Linked DNA regions of Homo sapiens. The protein of the gene in region 5 purifies or fractionates together with the protein of the main gene of each other region. This does not show direct contact. Each region holds a gene or a part of one and is shown on either strand. Other genes may lie near its edges. The genes, in order: LONP1, SERPINA1, ALB, TNKS, UPF3A and CASC3.

Evidence for each region.
Region 1: the proteins of UPF3A (region 5) and LONP1 purify together in Homo sapiens (affinity purification with mass spectrometry; one large-scale study listed by BioGRID and IntAct). This does not show direct contact.
Region 2: the proteins of UPF3A (region 5) and SERPINA1 purify together in Homo sapiens (affinity purification with mass spectrometry; one large-scale study listed by BioGRID and IntAct). This does not show direct contact.
Region 3: the proteins of UPF3A (region 5) and ALB purify together in Homo sapiens (affinity purification with mass spectrometry; 2 studies listed by BioGRID and IntAct, with this or other methods). This does not show direct contact.
Region 4: the proteins of UPF3A (region 5) and TNKS purify together in Homo sapiens (affinity purification with mass spectrometry; one large-scale study listed by BioGRID and IntAct). This does not show direct contact.
Region 6: the proteins of UPF3A (region 5) and CASC3 purify together in Homo sapiens (co-immunoprecipitation; 3 studies listed by BioGRID and IntAct, with this or other methods). This does not show direct contact.

What each region holds. Positions count from the first base shown.
Region 1 is NC_000019.10:5,703,147-5,706,646, reverse strand, and holds part of LONP1 (lon protease homolog, mitochondrial isoform 1 precursor), read left to right. Parts: intron 1-654; coding exon 655-875; intron 876-2,428; coding exon of another isoform or gene 2,429-2,531; exon of another isoform or gene 2,532-2,916; intron 2,917-3,500. UniProt on the Homo sapiens protein: ATP-dependent serine protease that mediates the selective degradation of misfolded, unassembled or oxidatively damaged polypeptides as well as certain short-lived regulatory proteins in the mitochondrial matrix.
Region 2 is NC_000014.9:94,385,803-94,389,848, forward strand, and holds the start of SERPINA1 (alpha-1-antitrypsin precursor), read right to left. Parts: upstream 2,801-4,046; 5' UTR 2,758-2,800; intron 1-2,757.
Region 3 is NC_000004.12:73,417,787-73,421,286, reverse strand, and holds part of ALB (albumin preproprotein), read right to left. Parts: intron 3,200-3,500; coding exon 2,976-3,199; intron 1,781-2,975; coding exon 1,648-1,780; intron 1,034-1,647; coding exon 989-1,033; 3' UTR 966-988; intron 196-965; 3' UTR 1-195. UniProt on the Homo sapiens protein: Binds water, Ca(2+), Na(+), K(+), fatty acids, hormones, bilirubin and drugs. Its main function is the regulation of the colloidal osmotic pressure of blood. Major zinc transporter in plasma, typically binds about 80% of all plasma zinc.
Region 4 is NC_000008.11:9,747,912-9,751,411, reverse strand, and holds part of TNKS (poly [ADP-ribose] polymerase tankyrase-1), read right to left. Parts: intron 3,389-3,500; coding exon 3,200-3,388; intron 1-3,199.
Region 5 is NC_000013.11:114,288,101-114,291,600, reverse strand, and holds part of UPF3A (regulator of nonsense transcripts 3A), read right to left. Parts: intron 113-3,500; coding exon 57-112; intron 1-56. UniProt on the Homo sapiens protein: Involved in nonsense-mediated decay (NMD) of mRNAs containing premature stop codons by associating with the nuclear exon junction complex (EJC) and serving as link between the EJC core and NMD machinery.
Region 6 is NC_000017.11:40,161,037-40,164,536, reverse strand, and holds part of CASC3 (protein CASC3), read right to left. Parts: intron 2,785-3,500; coding exon 2,626-2,784; intron 2,605-2,625; exon of another isoform or gene 2,536-2,604; coding exon 2,384-2,535; intron 1,813-2,383; coding exon 1,636-1,812; intron 1,057-1,635; coding exon 371-1,056; intron 1-370. UniProt on the Homo sapiens protein: Required for pre-mRNA splicing as component of the spliceosome. Core component of the splicing-dependent multiprotein exon junction complex (EJC) deposited at splice junctions on mRNAs.

The DNA.
Region 1 (3,500 bases), on a different chromosome or scaffold from region 5:
TCACCTCACGGTCGTAGCATTTTTCAGAATTTTTTACTTTAAGACAGGGTCTCAGTCGGCCACCTAGGCTGGAGTGCAATGGCGCAATCTCAGCTCACTACAGCCTCCACCTCCAGGGCTCAAGTGATCCTCCCACCTCAGCCTCCCGAGTAGCTGGGATTACAGGCGTGCAATACCACACCGGCTAATTTTTGTATTTTAGTAGAGACAGGGTTTCACCATGTTGGCCAGGCTGGTCTTGAACTCCTGGCCTCAAGTGATCCGCCCGCTTCAGCCTCCCAAAGTGCTAGGATTACAGGCGTGAGCCACCGCGCCTGGCCCCATCTCTACAAAAAATTTTAAAATTAGAGCCAGGTGTGGCAGGTGCCTGTGGTCCCAGTTACTCAGGAGGCTAAGGCAGGAGGATCGCTTGAGCCCAGGAGGTGGAGGCTACGGTGAGCTATGATGGTGCCTTTGCACTCCAGCCTGGGTAACACAGGTAGACCCTGTCTCAAAAACAAAAGAAGATGGAAGGAACCAAAGGCTTCGTGCTCTGGGTTTCGTTTCTTTTCTCTCTGAGTCCTGGGGGAGCAGAGGGTCCCCCTTCGTCTGGGGACGCACCCACCCACCCAGCTTCCCGGAGCCAGGGCCTGATGGCAGCACCTCACCCCACAGGTGGAGGAGAAGATCAAGCAGACCCACCGTAAGTACCTGCTGCAGGAGCAGCTAAAGATCATCAAGAAGGAGCTGGGCCTGGAGAAGGACGACAAGGATGCCATCGAGGAGAAGTTCCGGGAGCGCCTGAAGGAGCTCGTGGTCCCCAAGCACGTCATGGATGTTGTGGACGAGGAGCTGAGCAAGCTGGGCCTGCTGGACAACCACTCCTCGGAGTTCAAGTGAGTGCCAGGCCCGGGGCGGCCCAGCCCTCAGGTGACCCCTCCTCAGCCCCCATCTTAGGCAGGCCAGGGGACCCAGCGGGGAGCCCCGTGGCACCTTCTTGGTGTGGCAGGTGCGGGCTGGGAGGCATCCAGCGAGTATCAGCCCTGTTCTGGGCAGGACACATCATCACCATCTCCATTCTACAAGGAAATCGAGGCTCGGGGCTGTTGAGCTGGTGGCCAGGGCCTGTGAATTGGCAGGTGGTGCCACGGATTTGAGCCCAGGGACGCCTGGCTCTAAGCCAGGGCTGCTTTTTTTTTTTTTTTTTTTTGAAATGGAGTCTCGCTCAGTTGTCCAGACTGGAGTGCAGTGGCACAATCTTGGCTCACTGCAACTTCCGCTTTGCGGGTTCAAGCAATTCTCCTGCTTCAGTCCCCCAAGTATCTGGGACTATAGGCATGCACCACCACGCCTGGTTAATTTTTTGTATTTTTAGGAGACATGGGGTTTCACCATGTTGTTCAGGCTGGTCTCGAACTCCTGACCTCAAATGATCCGGCTGCCTTGACCTGCCAAAGTGCTAGGATTACAGGCGCGAGCCACCATGCCTGGCTTTTTTTTTTTTTTAAGACAGAGTCTTGCTCTGTTGTCCAGGCTGGAGTACAGTGGTGCAATGTTGGTTCACTGCAACCTCCACCTCCCAGGTTGAAACGATTCTACTGCCTCAACTTCCTGAGTAGCTGGGATTACAGGCATGTGCCACCACACCCAGCTAATTTTTAGTATTTTTAGTAGAGATGGGGTTTTGCCATGTTGGCCAGGTTGGTCTCAAACTCCTGACCTCAAGGGATCCGCCCACCTTGCCCTCCCAAAGTGCTGGGATTACAGGCATGAGCCACCACGCCTGGCCTAAGCCAGGCCTTCTCGCCAGGACCAGGAGTCCCCATGGCTGTCTTTGCAAGGCTACCCCTGGCTTCTGTTGCCCCTTCGAGAGTCAGCCAGGAAGTGACCATGCCTTCCCGCAGCACTGGCCTTGCCCGGGGGCCACTGTCCTGAGCATGCCATGAGTCAGGGTGGCCGCCCCAGGTTTGAGGGCCTCAGGTACCTCTGAGATCCTTTCAGCCATGCCCATGTCCAGCCAGGACAGAACCCACCTGGCCACTTCCCATGCAGCATGCTCTGTTTTCAGCCCAGGAACCAGTTGTCACGCCAGGGCAGCTTCTAGGCAGAAGTCCCCGGGGCAGGGCTGGGCAGGCCGTAGGACAGCGCTTAGAGGGAAGGCATGAGTTTCTTTCCTGGCTGCTGGCCCAGGACCCCGCCTCAGATTTGAATGTCACGGTCGCCGGAGTCTCTCCCCCAGGGCCCTGAGAGGCACTGGTTGCGCGCGAAGGCTGTGGCTTCCCCTCCCAGCACGCCCCGATTTCGGTGAGTGGCCTGTGAGCTCCCATGGCTGCTCCGACGGTGCCACAACTTAGTGCCTTACACAATGCCGAGCCCTGAGATCCCGCTGTGGGCCGGGCCCGTCCCTCCCAGAGGCTCCAGAGGAGAATCCGTTTCCTGCCTTTCCCAGTATCTGGAGGCGCCCGCATCCCTCGGCTCGGGGCCCCTTCCTCCTTCACAGCCACAGCGCAGCCTCTTCCAGTCAGTCTCTCACCTCCCACCGCCTGTCGTGAGGACCTGGTGAGGAACCTGGGCCCCCTGGGTCACCCAGAATGCTCTCCTGTCTCGGGGACCTTCACTCAGCCCCATCTGCAGTTCCCTGCTGCCATGTGAGAGGCCTGTGCCGCCGCCTCCTGTGGGGGGAGAACGTAGATGTTTTCGGGGTTCTTCTGTCTCCCAGCGAGTGCCTCAGCTGCCCTTGGGCTGGTGGAAGTACCTGCTCAGACCGGGCCTTGTCCTGCAGAAGCAGATAGCTCCTTCCCCCAGGAGCTGAGGGGGTCTGTAAGGCGGGTTCTGTCCTCAGGTCCTGGGAAGTCACGGGGGACAAGCCCTCAGTACCTGCGTGTCACCAAGATGCCTGCAGCAGGCTGCCAGCTACCTCTCCCACCCAGAATGCTCTCCGCAAAGTGTCACTGCCTGTGTCACTTCCACAGTGACTTCATGTGTCTCTAAACTCCAGCATCCGTGTGGCCCAGCTGGCCTGTCCCGGTGCGTCTCGTATGCCCGTTGGGTGGCAGTGCGCCCTGACGGTGTCTGCTCGTGGGGCCGCCTGGCCCTTCCTCGGAAGCCGTCCTCCTCTTCATCCTCTTCCCCAATCCTGCCGTGTGCTCTTGCAGCCCTCACTGACTTGCTCCTGGCCCATAGTGGCCGCTGCTCACTGCTGCACGGCTCCCAACTTGGGGACCAATATGGAGTTGCCCTCCCAACCTTCAGCGTCACTCTCCCGGCAGGGGACCTGGCCTCCATTTCCCCACCTGCCCTGGGTCAGGCCTTGTCCCATTTTCTAAGCCTCGTCCCCTCTGTGGTTCTGCTCACTCAGCCCTGGGCAGAAGCCAGTGCCGTCTTGGCTCTCCTGATGAGTCAGCAGTGGACCTCCGGCCATCTCCTCCTTCCTGCACTGGGTGCTTTGGACAGGGCAGTTTGTAAATTTTTTTTTTTTTTTTTTTTTGAGATGGAGTCTCACTCTGTTGCCCAGGCTGGAG
Region 2 (4,046 bases), on a different chromosome or scaffold from region 5:
CCACACCCATCCATCTTTCCTGGTGTCACATCACCTACTCTGGTTTCCTCCTTTCACAGTGAAGAGTTTGAAGCCCAGAGAGGGTCAGGGCCTTGTTGAGGCTATACAGCAAGTCAGTGACAAAGCTGGAACAAGTCTTGGCTTTCCCAGCACTCAGATCATGAACTGAGACAGCTGTGTCCTCAGATCTCAGATGATGAATGTCAGAATTGGGCTGTGACATTGGTCTCAAGCATCATGTTGGGTTCATTATGCCTCCCAAGCTGTTCCTTATAACATCAGGACTCCAAAACCTGCTCTCTCCTGGCCCTTCTATCAGAGGCAGCACCCTGCACTCCTAAAAGCTAGTGCCTGGGAGGGCGACTGGAGAGGAGAAAGTCGCCATCTGGCCAAGTACCCCATGGTGTACGGACACTGAGGCCAAGCTTTAAACCAAAAGAATGAAGGCTTCATGGTGACATTTCTGGGATCGGGGCAGGTGGGAGCACTCTTTGCGGGGCCAGGGACAGGGAAGCGAGCCACTCCCTGCCTAATCTCACACCATTTCTACCCGGGAGCATAAAATAAGGGACCAAGAGCAACCCGGCAGGGTGCAGGGAAGAGAATCTCGCCTATGGTCAAACAACCTGTTGAACTGGGCAATAAATAAACCCAAGTGTGACCAGGCCCTGTCACTTACTGGCAGGGGGCCTGGGGTAAATGACTTCACTTCTTTGAGCACTAGCTTCATAGCTGTACAATGGAGAAAAGAATCCTTTGGACAGGGATGAGGAATAACTGACGTAATGCATGAGTGGGCACCAGGTGAGGAAGCCCTCCCTGTACCTGCACACAGGTTGAGCTCCTGCCCGAGAGATGGTAGATTTCTTCCCGGAGAGCCTGCTGCACTCCCCAGGACCATTTCAGCAGGAAGGGGCTCCTGCTCAGCAGTGAACAGCATCTGAGTTTGGCAAATTTTCCATTAAATTATCCAACTGTTTACTGCCTGCCAGCTGCCTAACCCTATGCTAAGCAAACATCAGCCTCAGCGTCACCATCATTGCCACACTTACTAACACCTGGTGTTTTACAGGCACCGTATCATCTAATCTGTCCTCAAAGCTTACCCTATAAGGTGCAAATTATTAGCCCTATTTTATAGATAGAAAAATTGAGCCCCAAAGAGCATTAAATAACTCACTAAAAATCACAGAGCTACTTGCTTACAAAACTGAGATGTAATCCTAAATGTTTTGTCTGGGATTAAACAGATTTCACTCCAAAACCTGACATTGAATCATCTCTGTGTACAAAGCTGAAGCCAGAAGTCTTGAATCAGAAAACTTCAGAGGCAGCCTGGCTAAATGAAGAGGGGAGCATCAGTCTGTGGCTAAAATTAAAGGCTCTGAGGCCAGATTGCTCCACGTCAACTTGCTATTAGCTGTGTGACCTTGGACAAGTTACTTAACCTCTCTGAACCTCAGTTTCCTGGAGATGAGAAAGGTGGACTTTGTCATAGAGCTATTGTGAAATTAAATACACATAAAATGCCAAGAAGTGCCTGCTGCGCAGCAAGTTCTCGAGAATACCAGTTCTTGCTGCTATTGCTGCAGGTCTTTTAGAGGCGTTCTATAGGAAACTGGCCACCTTGGCCTTGGTCATCTTTTTGACCTGTCTCCAAAACTCAGTGCAGGAAAAATTAAATCCTTCCAACACTTCAGAGATCAAGGTCGGGTGGGGTGAGGGGAGGGGACAGAAGTCAAAGGTTATCATGTTTTGCCCAAGAGAACAGAGAGGTTGAGCAACTGTCTGAAGTCACCGAGCATCAGAGAGGCCTCAAGTCCAGCCCAGGTTTCCTGTTCCCCATCCAGCGCCTGAGACCCAAGAGAAACAGTGACACTAGGGCCAGGTTCAAGAGTTTGGGGACTGGAGCCAGGTGCCTGAGCCCGAATTATGGATGGTGTGTGATTTGGGGCCAGTTATTCACCTCTCTGTCCCCATCTTCCTCATCTGTAAAATGGGAATCACACTAGTAACTGCCTTGGAGGGTTATGAGGCTTAATCACGCACTGAGCTTAGCCGTGGCCTGGTGCAGAGCGATTATTCAGGAATGCCAGCTTGAGCCCTGGGTGACAGTGCCCCTCACAGCTTCCTGTCCTCCACTGGGACAGGAGGGCCCAGAGGTCCACGGTGCATGGGGAGGCCCATTTTGATGTAAGGCTGAGGCCTGGCACAGGTCTGTTCCTGGTCATATCTGGAGGGGATGGAGAATGTGAGCCGGCGTTCCTCCCCACCCCTCTCTGGACCTTAACCTCCTCATCTATAGAAGGGGAGAAAGATGCATGCCCAAGCAGTAGGAGAGGTGGTGAGGCTTATAGGAGACAACAGACAGGAGCCCCCGACAGACAGAGGAGCTGTGCAAACAGAAAGAAATGGCTGCGCTTTGTTGCTGTTGCTGTATCTTGGCTGGTGTCCCCCATCCTGGGGTGCCAGGACTGCAGACCTAGACACCCTCATCCACTTCTGCTTACAGGAACCAGTGTATCCACCAGGAGGTACCGAGGGGGGACCGGGCAGGACTGGGAAACAGGACACAACCCTCATGGCTGCTGTTATTATGAAAATAGGAGCTCAGCTGCAGCCTCTCCATCTGCCCTGCACCTCAGCAGGCGGATACCCACTCCACAACCCCCCTCCTGCCCCAGACCTGCTGCCTGCCTGGGCCATGGGGAGCTCAGAAGCCTCTCCAGAACCTCTCGCAGTGAAAGGCATACTTACGATTCACTGTCCCAGGTCAGTGGTGGTGCCTGAAGCTGAGGAGACAGGGCCCTGTCCTCGTCCGTATTTAAGCAGTGGATCCAGAGGGGCAACGGGGGAGGCTGCTGGTGAATATTAACCAAGGTCACCCCAGTTATCGGAGGAGCAAACAGGGGCTAAGTCCACTGGCTGGGATCTGAGTCGCCCGCCTACGCTGCCCGGACGCTTTGCCTGGGCAGTGTACAGCTTCCACTGCACTTACCGAAAGGAGTCATTGTACCTGGCTCAGAAACCACAGCGTCCTGTGTCCAAGGTGGAGGGGGTGGCGTGAGTCAGACAGTCTCTGGGAGAGTACCACTTAGCTGGCCCTCTGCTCTCACTGCAGAATCCTTAGTGGCTGTTCCACTGGTAGCAAGATCTACCATTTACTGAGTCACCCCAAAATGCCTGATGCTGAAGACTTACTGCCGCCCTGGGAGATCAGAGTGGGTTAGAGCCCATTTGACAGATGAGGAAACAGGCTCAGAGCGGAGAGACCGCTCATCCAAAGTTACCCAGTCAGCCTTAGACACAAACACCCTCTTGATGGTCCCGATGGAAAAATGGAGCATGACTGAGGCAGACACAACCGTCAGGCTGGCATGGGGGGCCGTGAGACAGGGTAGAGGTGGGGAAGCACATCTGTAAAGAAGAGCTGTGCTGCCTCAGGCAGGCCGCTTCACCTCTCTGAACCAGGAACTGTTTCACCTGCATCCCAAAGAGTTGGAAGTTTCATTCCCAAGCATGCTTGTGAAGTGCCTCGGGTGAAGTGCCTGGCACACAGTAGGCTCTTTATGTGGGTCTGCACAGCCCTCTGCTTAGTCTGCCCCCCAGGCTGCTCAGAGCAGGAGGAGGTTCAATTTTGACCAGCCTCAGGCCTGTTTCTGTTTTTGCTCCTGGAAAACCAGTGTGATCCGTATACAGCTTGGAGTTTCTTTGGATACATGGCCCCCACTCTGGGGTTGTTGGAGGCCTTTGGAGACTGCTGGGGGTGGAGGGGAGGGGAGGTACAGGGTTGAGGCTAGTGGGGCCCCACTTGATTGCAATCCCTTTAAAAGCCTAAATCAGATTGCATCGCCCGCTGTGCAACCCGCAAACCTGCTTGGGAGCTGGCGTACGTGCCGTAGATACTTGCAGAGTGAATGGATGAGTGCATTTTTGCCCCTTCTGTCATTCACCAGTCCCATTTATGCCTCCACCTTGGGGCTCTACCAGGCGAGTGACCCACAGGATCCTCCAGCACACACATTCAGACCAGGGAACCCACTTAC
Region 3 (3,500 bases), on a different chromosome or scaffold from region 5:
TTTGAAAAATAACAGTGCTGTACCACTCTATTAGATTCTTTCCATTTTTTATTAATTGAAGCACAGAGAAAAGAGGCAAAATGATTAAAGAAATTTATGTTTTTTAGACAGGGTGTTGGCTTTACACCAACGAAAAAGAAAAACAGATGAATAAGCTTTTGATCTTCATTTTCTTTCTCTTATTCTCATGGTAGGCTGAAAAACAAAAGGACAAATATAAGTCTTATTTGTAAAATGGCATGTGTTTTTCAAACCTATTAAAATAAATGCCAAATTACTTAGATCATCTTTCTGCAATTTACACCAGTGAAAACAATTTAAGCCTGTCCTAGACTTACGGCTGCTGAATTCTTCTGTTGGGCTAGGCAAGGGGACACACCAATAAATGTTGTCATAAGAAGATAAGTCCTATTAAAGCTCAGCATGTTGACAAATTGGAAATGTAATAGCAGATTCTTCACTATAAAGTTCACAGAAGGTAGATCCATCATATTCTCCAATGGAAAGGATGAGTTGAACTATTAGGTTGAACCATGTGAAATCACTGATATTCAACTGTTTTTGCCCTATAAAGCACTCTTTCATGTGGTTCAGCCTAATTCCCAGAGTATTCCACTGCTGAGCCATCACTTACTTGGATGGCTCTGTGTACCGCATCATATAAGTCAGAACAGGACAATGGGCAACACTGAAACTTTGGTTTCAATTTTGAATTTTGACCCTTTGGAAAATTACTTAATCTATGCTTTGATGTTTATCTTCATTTTCTCATCTACAAAATAGAAATAATAGTGGTTCCCAACTCAGCAACTATTTTGAGAATTTTAAAAGCTAATATTTACATACATAAATAGTTTAGAATAGTGGTCGGTGCTGGTCTATATGGCTCTTGGAAATGGTCAATCTTTGCTATTTTAATAATAACTATTATAGTTACTTTTTTAAAAAATTCAAAATATAGTTACCTGAGATGCTTTTAAATGTGATGTTATAAGCCTAAGGCAGCTTGACTTGCAGCAACAAGTTTTTTACCCTGAACACAAAGACATGACAGATGTTAGGAAAATATTAGCATTACTATTAGGATACAAAATTAACATTTATGAAGCTATTGATGATTGCAAAGTGATTTCACGTGCATCATATCCTTTAATTACAATTTACTACTATAATCTCTGGACGGAAGCTCACGGACATAGTTGTCCCCAAATGAATAAAAAAAAGTTACTGTCAGGCCATAAAGGGCAATTTTAAGTGATTTAGACATTTGAATGTAAATTCTCCCACTAGCCTATAAAATCAACTAAATCACAAACCACCACATTTCAAGTAAATGTTTAAATAAATTAATGTTTTGATTTCATGATCAAAATATTTCAGGCCTTACAAATATTCCTATTAATATTCATAAGCATCACAAATTTGGAAACAGAACAGGCATTATAAACATTTAACAGTATGGCACAATAGAGCAGGAGATAAAAACAAAGTGCTGTTTTATTCATTTTGTAAGACAATTGTTTGTAAAATAAGATCCCTGTCCCACATGTACAAAGCCTCCTTTGATATATAAATCCCTAAGCCCTAGCCTAACCAAACATGCAAAAATGAATACTGGACATATTAAAATGAAGAGAACTGTAGTACCTCCTCGGCAAAGCAGGTCTCCTTATCGTCAGCCTTGCAGCACTTCTCTACAAAAGCTGCGAAATCATCCATAACAGCTTTCAGTTGCTCTTTTGTTGCCTTGGGCTTGTGTTTCACGAGCTCAACAAGTGCACTGAGTTTGAATGGAAAAAGAAAAAAAAAAAACAGAAAAAACATTACTCACGTATAGAAAAATGGAGAGAGTAAGGATGGTAGTCCCATCATTTAAGATTATAAATCTTGGAGCCAGGCAACTCTGAGTACTTTGGGGCTCAGGCATACCGCTATAAGTCTCAATATTCTCATCTGCATGATGAGGATAATAAAATCCACTTTCATGGAGTTGGTGGGAAGACCAACTGAAACAATCAGTATAAACCACTCATCACGTTATGTAGTGTCAACAAATTTCTTTTCAGTAAATCTCTGAAAAGAAGTATGTCATTGCAATTATATATTATTCAGATTTTGGAAGTGCCATATTATGTCATATTGAGTTTTATTGCTATTAAAGAGCTAAAAATGATCCTTAAAAATTTAATTATCTTGGACTTTATTTAAAATTTTTCTCATCTATAAAGATGAGAAACTTTATATTTGGTTCTTAAACTTTGCTCCCTTCAAAGCTAATAGTGGGGAGGCTATAGAAAATAAGGCTATCCAAACTCATGGGAGCTGCTGGTTCTCTTTCACTGACATCTGCAAAGACAACAATGCCAGGGAGAGATTTGTGTGGGCATGACAGGTTTTGCAATATTACTCTTAAGCCTAGACGATGATTACAGCCCACAAGAGATGACAGCAACTTTCTATAGCTAAATTTTATGCAATTATAACCCCTGTGATAGCAATAGGGAGTTGAGCTTCAGGGCTTGCATTTCTACATGTTTTTTATCCAAGTCTCATTCTCAAAAGTCACATCTTGGGGGTTTGTCTCATGTGTGGGGCCACCATAGGGCAAACTTAAAATAATTATTTACATCTAGAAATAAATTCTCCTATGGTTCCCATTAACTAATTTGCCATGTGCACAAATTTATCAGTTAATTGTTCATCTTTTTCTACTGAATATGGCCTAACATGTTATTCTATTGTGGCTTTAATCCACAATATTACTCTGAATAATTTTAGCAATATTATAACAGAGGATTTTGTCTTTAAAAAGTTATTCATTTTATTCTGGGTACTCTTATCAGCATAATAAGGGCAACACTCCAATACTTTCCTCTAAGAAATATAATCACTACTTCAGGAAAAAGTTGCTAGCTTGAATTGACAGTTCTTGCTATCAAGACTACAAACACATGCAGTAATGAAATACTCCTCACGTTTGTTTCTTGATTTGTCTCTCCTTCTCAGAAAGTGTGCATATATCTGCATGGAAGGTGAATGTTTCAGCATTAAACTCTTTGGGAACGTATGTTTCATCGACTTCCAGAGCTGAAAAGCATGGTCGCCTGTTCACCAAGGATTCTGTGCAGCATTTGGTGACTCTGTCACTTACTGGCGTTTTCTCATGCAACACACATAACTGGTTCAGGACCACGGATAGCTAAAGAACAGGCAGGAGAGCAGAAATTCAAAAGAGGTGAAGCTGAAAATTTTCTACTAAAAATACAAAAAATTAGCCAGGCATGGTGGCATGCACCTGTAGTCCCAGCTACTTGGGAGGCTGAGGCAGGAGAATGGCTTGAACCTGGGAGGCGGAGGTTGCAGTGAGCCGAGATGGCACCACTGCACTCCAGCCTGGACAACAAAGCGAGACTCCGTCTCAAAAAAAAAAAAAAAATTATCATCCTCGGGGCCTTGACTGCCAATATCACACATACACACACGTGCATGCACACACACAT
Region 4 (3,500 bases), on a different chromosome or scaffold from region 5:
ATGTAATTTTTAAAGATATTTCTTCTTTCATTTAAAAAAAAGCACTTTCAGTGTTAACTGTCACCCTTCTTTAGAAAAAATTTCTGTGTTTACTATATTTTGTTTACGTTTAAACAGCTATAATCTGGTTATTTACTTCACACTTAATAATTTCATGTACAATTAACATCTGGTGAAATTTCAAAGGGATGACACTTTAATTTAGCTCATTTATTCATAAACTTTTCAGTTTTTAAGTATTAGATGCAACTGCTTTTCGAGTATGCGGGAGATAGTCTCCAAAGACAGCCACCCATCAATTCCTTCCTCCCGTCATGTATGCCTCCCCTTGAATTTCTGCCCCCTACCCGCCGAATGTGGTTTGCCCTGTGAGTTGTCTTGACCAATAGAATGGAGAAGAAGTGACATTCTGAGGCTTTTGAGCCAGGCTTTAAGTGGATTGGCAGTGTCTACTTTTACTCTCTTAGAAGCCATCTGCCATGTTGTACAGAAGTTTGGGCTAGACTACTGAGTGGTGAGATCCTATGCAGGGAGAGCCCTGCGGGATGAAAGGCCATCTTGGAAGCTCCAGCCTCTGCTGAGTTCCCAGGTGCAGGTAACTGCAAAACCAGAACCACCCAGCTGAGCCCAGTCAACTCCCAGACGTGTGAGAAATAATAAATTGTCACGTTAAACCCTCAGTGGGTTTGGGGGTGGCTTAGTGGGCAGCAATAGAGAAATGAAATGCACACCAGTACCTGGAAGTGGGGTGCTGGTGGACATGTGGCTTTGGTTGGAGGCGTGAAGGGTGGCCTGGTTATTGCTGAGGGAGGCTGTGAATGGAAGATAGATAGGCAAGTGCTACTGAAGGCGAGAGAAAGGGGACTAATGCTGTGTAGCAGAAAGTTTGGCAACGCTGCCACAGGAGGTCTTACGGAAGGTAGAACGTAAACCTAAATAAATTTGTAAATTTGGCTAAGGAAATTTCCAGAACAAATTCTGCCTTGTCAACTGGACTGGTGTGTTTATCTGCCCATGATAAGGTACAGGAAGAGAGAAAGGAACTGTCCAGTTCTCTTTAAGGAAATGTATTCACCTAACATTTGCTAGCTTAGAAAACAAAATTATTCACCATTCCCAGCCTCTCCATCAGCAAAAGTTTCTTCAAGTAAGGCACAGCCTCAGGCCAAAGGTCAAATCCAGCGTGCTGACAGGAAAACATGGCCTCAGAATAAAAATCAACTAGAGGTACAGATATATTACCTCAAAATCTTTAAAAAACCTCTAAGGTGGTACCTTGTGAATTCCCTTGGCTAGATGAAAGAGCTTCAAAGGATCTTATGGGCATTGTCCCACTGCACCTTTACTTGGATTCCATGTTAGAGAGGGACCTGTCTTGAAAAGATTTGTGGGTGGAGCTTTTGGCTGATGGAGTGGTGTGTAATTTGATGGGAAATCCAAAAGTTTACAAAGGAAGAGTTGTACTAGTTTGGACTAAAAGGGACAGGTAGATCAAAATGATAAAAGGCTCAGGGTCCCGAAAATTTCTAGGAGCAGGGAACAGGTTGAGAAAGCCACTTGGCTGTAAATATGATCCATTTCTTATGAAAAGAGAAGGATAATTCAGAGGGCATGGCCAAGAGCTACAGAGGCTATGTACAGTGGTTCACACCTGTAATCCCAGCACTTTGGGAGGCTGAGGAAGGAGGCTGAGGGAGGAGCCCAGAAGTTCAAGACTAACCTGGGCAACATAGCAAGACCCTGTCTCTACAAAAAGTAAAAACAAAAAAAATAGCCAGGCATAGTGGCATGTGCCTGTAGTCCCAGCTACTCAGGAGATTGAGATACGAGGATGGCTTGAATCTAAGAGGTTGGGGTTGTGGTGAGCCATGATCACGCCACTGCACTCTGGCTTGGGTGACATAGCCAGACTGTGTCTTAAGGGGGAAAAAAAAAAAAAAGAAAAGAAAAAAAAGGAAAAAAAAAGACAGCCACAGTGAACCACTCCCTGGGAGCAGAACTGGGCCCTAATCAGGGATCATTCCCTAACTCCAGAGTAGATGGCCCTGATAACATGTGTCTGGCTGAATTTTAGAATTGCTAAGGACCCAGTGATGACTATCTGCCCCCTGTTGGTGGGGGGAGCACGTGGCAGGTGAGTGTAATTTGAATGTGGGAAAAATAGATTTAATTTGTATTCACAGGGAAGACTGTGGCTGATTAAAGATGGCCACGAAATTTTTGCTTCTCCTTTCAAAGAAGGTGGAATCTGTTTTCCTATCCCTTGAACCTGAGCTGACTTCATGACTTGCTTTGCACAACAGAATGTGGCAGAAGTGACAGCATGTCAGTTCCAGGCTTAGCCTTAAAGAACAATGACAGCCTCTGCTTTCTCCCTCTTGAGATACAATTATTCTGTGAAGAAATTCTAACAAGACCACTTAATGATGAGATGCCACATGGGACTAGAGAGGCCCCTGCCTTCTAGTTGTATCTGTCAAGGCCCCAGGCATATGAATGAAGCCGTCTTTATGTTTCTGCCCCAGCCACCAGCTATATGCAGTTGCACAAGTGACCCCAGGTAAGACCAGAAGAATCTCCTAGCCAACATACAGAATCATAAGAAATAATAAGTCATTATTATTTTAAGCCACTGGGTGTTTTGAAACAGTTTGTTACGCAGCAATCAATAAATGAAACAGAACATAACTTGAAAAAACATTTCTGGCTTAAAAATTAGAAATTACTGTGACTATACAGTAACTCCCTGGTTTTCAGAAAGTTCACGGAAGATGATGCAGTGCTTAACTTTGCAGTTAAATAATACTGCCCAGAGTTAATTTTTCTTTGACTATCTCACAGACTTAGGTAAATTATCATGAACATTAGTTGCTCTACAATAACATGCCAAATATAGAAGGTACAAGATATTTTACTAAATATAATTCTTTGAGGGTACACTCTAAAAACATGTTTTCTTAAGATCCATGTTTTCCCAGCAGGCTAAGAATGGCAAAAAATTAAATTAACTTACTGTTTAGTTTGTCTTAAGAGTTTTAAATTATATTTTCATAGAAAAAGTGTGAACTTCAAAAATTTTCAGAAGATCTCTGTTCTAAGTGAAATAAACACGACTAAAAGTAAGCTGGTGAACCCGAGAATCTGATGTCATCTGTGAAAGTAGAAGGAACAATAATCAGTATCTGAAATGAGGACTTACTGTTGCCAGATCCAGAGGCGTCTGGCCTTCCTGGTTCTTCATGGTGGGGTCTGCACCATGCGCTAGGAGGAGGGCGCACAGCTGCGTCCTTCCTTTCTGGGCTGCTTCATGGAGGGGAGTAAACGCCCACTTATCTGTTGCATTTACACACGTGTTGTATTTTATCAATAAAGCCGCTATGTCAACATGCTGAAAAAAAAGAAAAGGATACAAAGAGTTAAGAATGAGATCATCTGGTAAAGCACCATTGTGTATACCTGTTTTTATTTAACAATTCACTCCTCTGTATCTCCATTTTCAT
Region 5 (3,500 bases):
CTGGATGAGAATGGCAGAAGCAGGGAGGGTGTTCATCAGGTAAAGGCCAGACCTACCTGCTTTTCTAATTTTCTATTTTTAATATATTCCAAAAGAGGTGTGGTTCTTCTAGCTAAAACACAAAAATTGTAATATTGTATTTAACTCCTAAAGAAAGATGTATTTTAAATACTTGTTTTGAATGTAATCTTTAAAATAAATACGGGAACCATATCATTACTTTTTAAATTTACACACTGTCTCCAGGGGAGTTTTTATTCCATTACTGTCAGGTCAAGTAATTTGAAAGTATCAACAATTTCATACATAGTAGACATCTAATTCCTGATTCTTAAGGGAGGCTTAAAATATTCCAAGATGATATTTTTGTAGGTGCCTTAAATCATTAAATAACATATATTTATTTTGATACATCGCATATTCTGAGAACTTTTTCGTTTTCCGTTCTCCAAGCAACAGTTTTAAAATAACATGGATTCTTGTAATGTCTTACAATATATACTCCATAAAATCCCAATGATAAGACATACAACTCTGGATTGTAGTTTAGAAAATGACTCCACATGGGCCGGGCGTGGTGGCTCACACATGTAATCTCAGCACTTTGGGAGGCCAAGGCGGGCAGATCACCTTAGATTGGGAATTCGAGACCAGCCTGACCAACCTAAGGAAACCCCGTCTCTACTGAAAAAATACAAAATTAGCCGGGCGTGATGGCACGCGCCTATAATCCCAGCTACTCGGGAGGCTGAGGCAGGAAAACTACTTGAACACGGGAGGAGGAGGTTGCAGTGAGCCGAGATTGCGCCACTGCACTCCAGCCTGGGCAACAACAGCGAAACTCTGCCTCAAAAAAAAAAAAAAAAGAAAAAAAAGAAAAGAAAAAGAAAATGACTCCATATGGCGCTGCTGATTGCAGAAAAGGCACCAACTACTAGGGAATGAACATTTCTACAGACTCTATCTTGGTCCTTCGCTTTCATGCCCGACCTCTCAGATCTGACCTGGATGTGGGTGCCCAGGCAAGCTAGAGGCCCCACAGGCCCCACCTCAGAGGGACTTGCGCTGACATGGACAGGCCCCACATCCCACCAACACAAGGACACAAATGGGAAGGGGGAAGACGGGGTCTACTCTGTGGGTCTGTAAGATCTCAGACTAAACAGGGCTGGGAAGAATCCCTGGATGTACCTGAAAACTGACACATCATCTCTGGAATTCTGAGGACCAGGAATGAATCAGGAATCATAGGAGAAGCCCTGGCCAGGGATCCATCACTTGGAACTGAGAACCCCTGACACCCTGACATCATAGATGAAATGGCACCTGTCCCAGAAGCCCTTCCCCAGGGACAGTCTGTGGTTGTAGGGAAGAGCCGATTGTCCCAGGAGCCCTGCCCCAGGCACAGTGGTTGTAGGGAAGAGCTGATGCAGGTACAAATGCCACATTTCGTGGCAGACACAGTTGCCACAGAGAACACTCCCCCAGGGGTCCCTGGGCTGACCATGAACTCTGGCTCAGGGTGAGTACAGCACACTGGCTCAGGTAAATGGTCAGCTCTTTGTAATGGGCAAATTATCTCAAATCAGCCAGGGTTCTGCTCTGCTCTGTGGAAAGCCTGAACTTGTCAGCCAGGAGCCGGGCGAGACCACCTGGATGTGTGGGGAGGCTGACCCCAGACTCCGCTTGCCCACCTTCCTCTTCCTATAAAATGTCTGCCCTATCACCCACAGGGATCACGGGCAAAGTACGTTAGACCCTGAATAAGAAAGTGTTCTACACATCATAAAAGTATGTTATTTATCAGACAGAATACGCACAACCATGCAACAGAACACAAGTAAACAGAAGTCTCAGAGCTGAACCCAGGCCTGTCTGCTCTAAAGGCCGATGCTAAAGGCCGATGCACCAGACTAACTCAACAACTCCAGAGTCCTTGCCAGAAACAGCTTATTAGTATTTCCATTTAACACTTGCTTCTCAGACCTGTGCAGAAGAATCCACTGGAGGCCAAAAGCTTAGAAAAGAAAAAGGTAATCTGCCATGAATTGCCTAAAATTTTTTTTTTTTTTTTTTTTGAGATGGAGTCTTACTTTGTCGCCAGGCTGGAGTGCAGTGGCGTGGTCTTGGCTCACTGTAACCTCCGCCTGCCGAGTTCAAGCGATTCTCCTGCCTCAGCCTCCCAAGTAGCTGGGACTACAGGCGCATGCTACCACGCCCAGCTAATTTTTGTATTTTTAGTAAAAACGGGGTTTCACCATGTTGGCCAGAAAGGTCTCAATCTCTTGACCTCATGATCTGCCCGCCTCAGCCTCCTAAAATGCTGGGATTACAGGTGTGAGCCACCGCACCCGGCCAAGTTTCAATTTTTCATACATAGAAACAGCAATCACAGAAACAAGGAAGACTCTACAGCCAAGTCCTGGAATGAATTAATCGCTCCCATCAGGGATGGTGGGTTCTAAGCCACATTCATTCATTCATTCAGCCAACTTTTGTGAAGCATTGGCTGTGCAGCAGACTCTCGGGGAGGTGCCAGGACATGCCCCCCTCTCCCCACCCCGGCAGGAGCCACGTGTCTGCCCCAAAAAGGTATGTCTCAAAACAGCCCTAAAGTGACCGATCCTTTGCAAGGGGACATTTAAAACAAAGTGAGATGGAAATGGGAGGGGCAGGGAGATGAGGCCTGTAATAACGTCTAATTTGCTGCTTCTAGCTCTTCTTCAATTTATCAAGTTCTTAAGTGAAATCTCGACTTTGCCCCCAATACTGTCCTACCCTCATGTTCCCTTGTGTATAATGGTGCCACAATCCACCCATCTGTTCAAGCCAAGCACTGGAGTCTTAATTCTTCCTGTCCCCTTACCTCCCACACCCTATCCGTCTGTCGGTCCTGTCCAGCCCACCTCCAAAACACACGCTCATCTCTTGGCATCCACAGTCTATCCCATGTGACACCACCAAAGTGACGGGGACAAATAATCAGACCATGCTACTCCCCCAGTGGCTTCCAGTTGCCCTGGAATGAATCTAAATGTCTTGCAGTGCCCTGAACCTCCAACCACGCTGCCCTCACCCATGTGTGCCAACCCCACAAGCCTGCACTCTGCGCCTGCAGTGAAAAGCGACAGCAGCCGGCCCTGCCCCTGGCGCTTCCTTCCTCCACTGCTCAGCACGGCCAGGCTCAGCTCATCTCCTGACCTCTTTCCCTCCCGCAGCCAGTCTCAGCTCCAGCTCCACCACTATCTTGGAGGGAGTCTCCCAACCTCTTTCCCTCCCATATTCCACTTTGTCACATCAGTGGCAGTGATTACACACTGAGGTGCCCTGGTTGGACTATTCCTGCTCCTGCTTCCAACCTGTCATCCCGATGGTAGGCAGAGGCCTTGTGCAACCTGCTTACCACTTGGCCCCATGCTGAGGCCCAGAGTCAGTGCCCAGGCAGCATGCAGCCTCAGCATATTTTGTTTACTTTAGTGATCAAAAGCCTTATTACGGCT
Region 6 (3,500 bases), on a different chromosome or scaffold from region 5:
GGTGGACATTACAGTGAGCCGAGATCGTGCCACTGCATCTAGCTTAGGCAACAGAGCAAGACTCCATCTCAAAACAAATAAATAAATAAAAATACAAAAAAAAAAATTAGCTGGGCGTGGTGGTGTGCGCCTGTAACCCCAGCTACTCAGGAGGCTGAGGCAGGAGAATCACTTGAACCTGGGAGGCGAAGGTTGCAGTGAGCCAAAATCGCGCCACTGCACTCCAGCCTGGGCAAAAGAGTGAGACTCTGTCTCAAAAAAAAAGAAGTAGACATTTGTCAGACACCACCTTCCTGAGACAGAAGTCCCATGCCCCTAAACCTGATGATGCAAAGGGGAAAAAGCTAGCCACCAATCCTATGATACCTACCTCGAAGTTCCCGTGGTTGCAGGAAAGAAGGCTGCCCCGGACTCCAATTCTGTTCTGCTATATTTAGTTGTGCCACATCTTGCTCAAGTCCACTTGTACTAGAATCCACCGGAGCTTCCCAGGTCCCAGTCTTAGTAGGTGGAGTTGGGGTGGTTTCTGGGACTGGAGGTGCTGGAATCAGTCCTTCAGGAGGAGGGGGCACCTCCTCTGCAAGCTTGACTGCATCTCCAACTTTGGTTCGAGTTCTTCTTGCCCGGGAATAGGATTTCTTCTCAATGGGCCTATCAGGGGGTGGTGGTGCAGCATCAGGAGCAGCAGCTGGTGGCTCTGAGGCTGCCTCTTCCTTCTCAGGACTGCCAAGCACTGGAGCATCTGCTTCTGGAGATGGATCCCTCACAGAAGTCTGCTCTAGGCGCCGTGACCGGTAACTAATCTCATGCTTAACAGTCTCACCAGACCGGCCACCATGCTGCCCACCAGCTTCCACAGGCCTAAAACCAGCACGACCTTCCTTGAAGCCCCCAGATCGAGAATAATTCCTGGGTGCAGACATACGGCCGGTACCTGCAGCATTCCTGTTAATAAATGTCCTTGGTGGTAGGGTGCCCCCAAGACCCTGGTGGCGATGAGACTTGTTTAGCCGCTCACCGTTCCAGTTTGGATCTCTTTGTGGAGGACTCCCATATCTACAAAAAATGGAATGAAGAAACTGTTAGGAAATTAACAAAAGGAGGCTACGCGCGGTGGCTCAGGCCTGTAATCCCAGCACTTTGGGAGATCGAGACGGGCAGATCACTTGAGGCCAGGAGTTCAAGACCAGCCTGGCCAACATAGCGAAACCTCATTTCTACTAAAAATACAAAAATTAGCCGATCGCGATAGTACGCGCCTGTAATCCTGGCTACTCAGGAGGCTGAAGCAGGAGAATCACTTCAACCCAAGAGGTGGAGGTTGCAGTGAGCCGAGAACATGCCATTGCACTCCAGCCTAGGCAACACAGCGAGACTCTGTCTTAAATAAATAAATAAAAAGAAAAGCAAAGAGAATTCTTTCTAAAAGATATCAAGAGTCTACACTCTATTTTTTTTTTCCTTTTTTTCTTTTTTTTTTTGGAGACAGGGTCTCACTATGTTCCCCAGGCTGGTCTTGAACTCCTGGCCTCAAGCAATCCTCCTGCCTCAGCCTCCCAAAGTGCCGGGATTCCAGGTGTAAGCCACCGTAAGCCACCATACCCAGCCTGGTCTTATGTTCTAAAATGTCCTCACCGGGGTTTCCGGATTCTTCGAGGTTTGATGTCATCAGGATTATGAGCTGAGCGAATGTCATAACCATAAAGAGCAATGAGCTCCTGTCGGGACTTTGGGGCCTGCTCATCTTCCCGGAACTTGTCATGCTCCCAGCGACCCTCATCCTTCCATAGCTTTCGCTGACGCCCCTTGGGTCTGGATAAAATGAAGGAAAAGTGTCTTGGGTCAGCAGAATTCTCCAAGTAGAGATGTTCTTGAACAAAATGGGTCAGGGAGGCAGGGGGACAATAGGAACTTTACGTAGTCTCCTCATCATCCCAAAGAGATTATAAAAAACAGGCCTCCCCAAAGCAAGCGTGAATCACAGAACCTCAGGGCCTGCTGGGCTCAAATATAACAGACACAGAAATGAGAAAAAGACTTCATTTCATGCCATTCAGTACCTTTGAAACATCTCCTTTCTCCTAAAAGGCAACCTATGCAAGTATTTCACTTCTCAGACGCCTTACACCTCAGACTAAGAAAAGCAAAAGTATAATAATTAAGAGAAGATGAGTTCTGGAAACAAACTGTCCTAGGTCTGTATCTTAGCTGCCTCACCAAGAGTTACCAAATATTCTAAGCCTACTTTCCTCATTTGTACGATAAGGATAATCATAATACTTATCTTAAAATGCTGTAATAAATGAAATACAGGCAAATCGAAGTACCTGGCCTACATGTGTAAAATACATGTTAGACAGCAGCAGCAGCAAGTGGCTTTTACCTGACTTCCTCCTCCTGAGTTTGCCCTCGAAGATCATGCTCAAAGAAGAGCCCTTTCCGAGGTATGTATGCTGGATTCTTCCGATCTTCATCATCATCCAAATGCTTAGGGCCCTTTTTACCCACTTTGTTCTCCACAGGCTCTGTGCTCTCCTAGAGGACAGATAAAGGGATCCTTACTCTTCCAAGCCTCAAGAATCTCTATTCCAGCCTCTAAAATGGAGGACTGTGGAATGTACTAACCTGTCCGTCCCCACTTTGCCTCTCTCCAGTCACAGTGCTTTTGGTGTCAGGCTTTTCTTCTCCCTTCTCTTCTTTTGTTGAAGAATTAACAGCATCATTAGCTTCTGATTTCAGCTCCACTTTGGAGTTTTCCTCTTCACTGTATTCACCTTCTTCACCCTGAAAAAAGTTTCCCTGTCAGCGATGCATATAAGATCTGAACGGTGCATTTTAATTCCCACCCCTGCCCCCAACCCCAAAACAAAGTCTCTGTCACCCAGGCTGGAATACAGTGGCACAATCTCAGCTCACTGTAACCTCTGCCTCCAGGGGTCAAGCAATTCTCCTGCCTCAGCCTCCTAAATAGCTGGGATTATAGGCGCCCACTACCGCGCCTGGCTAATTTTTGTATGTTTAGTAGAGACCAGGTTTCACCATGTTGGCCAGGCTGGTCTTGAACTCCTGATTTCGTGATCTGCCTGCCTTGGCCGCCCAAAGTGCTGGGTTTATAGGCGTGAGCCACCGTGCCTGGCTGCATTTCAATTTTCTACTCTTTAGGAATACATTTATCAATAAATTTTTAGTACAACATAGAACTGAAAAGCAAACAAATCAATATTCTTACCCATATTTCTAGAAAATAAAGATCCTATTTTGGCCTGGCACAGTGGCTCACGCCTGTAATCACATTTTGGGAGGCCAATGCAGGCAGATCACCTGCGGTCAGGAGTGTGAGACCAACCTGGCCAGCATGGCAAAACCCCATCTCTACTAGAAATATAAGAATTAGCCGCACTTGGTGGTAGGCACCTGTAATCCCAGCTGCTCGGGAGGCTGAGGCAGGAAAATCGTTTGAACCAGGGAGGCAGAGCTTGCAGTGAGCAGAGACTGCGCCA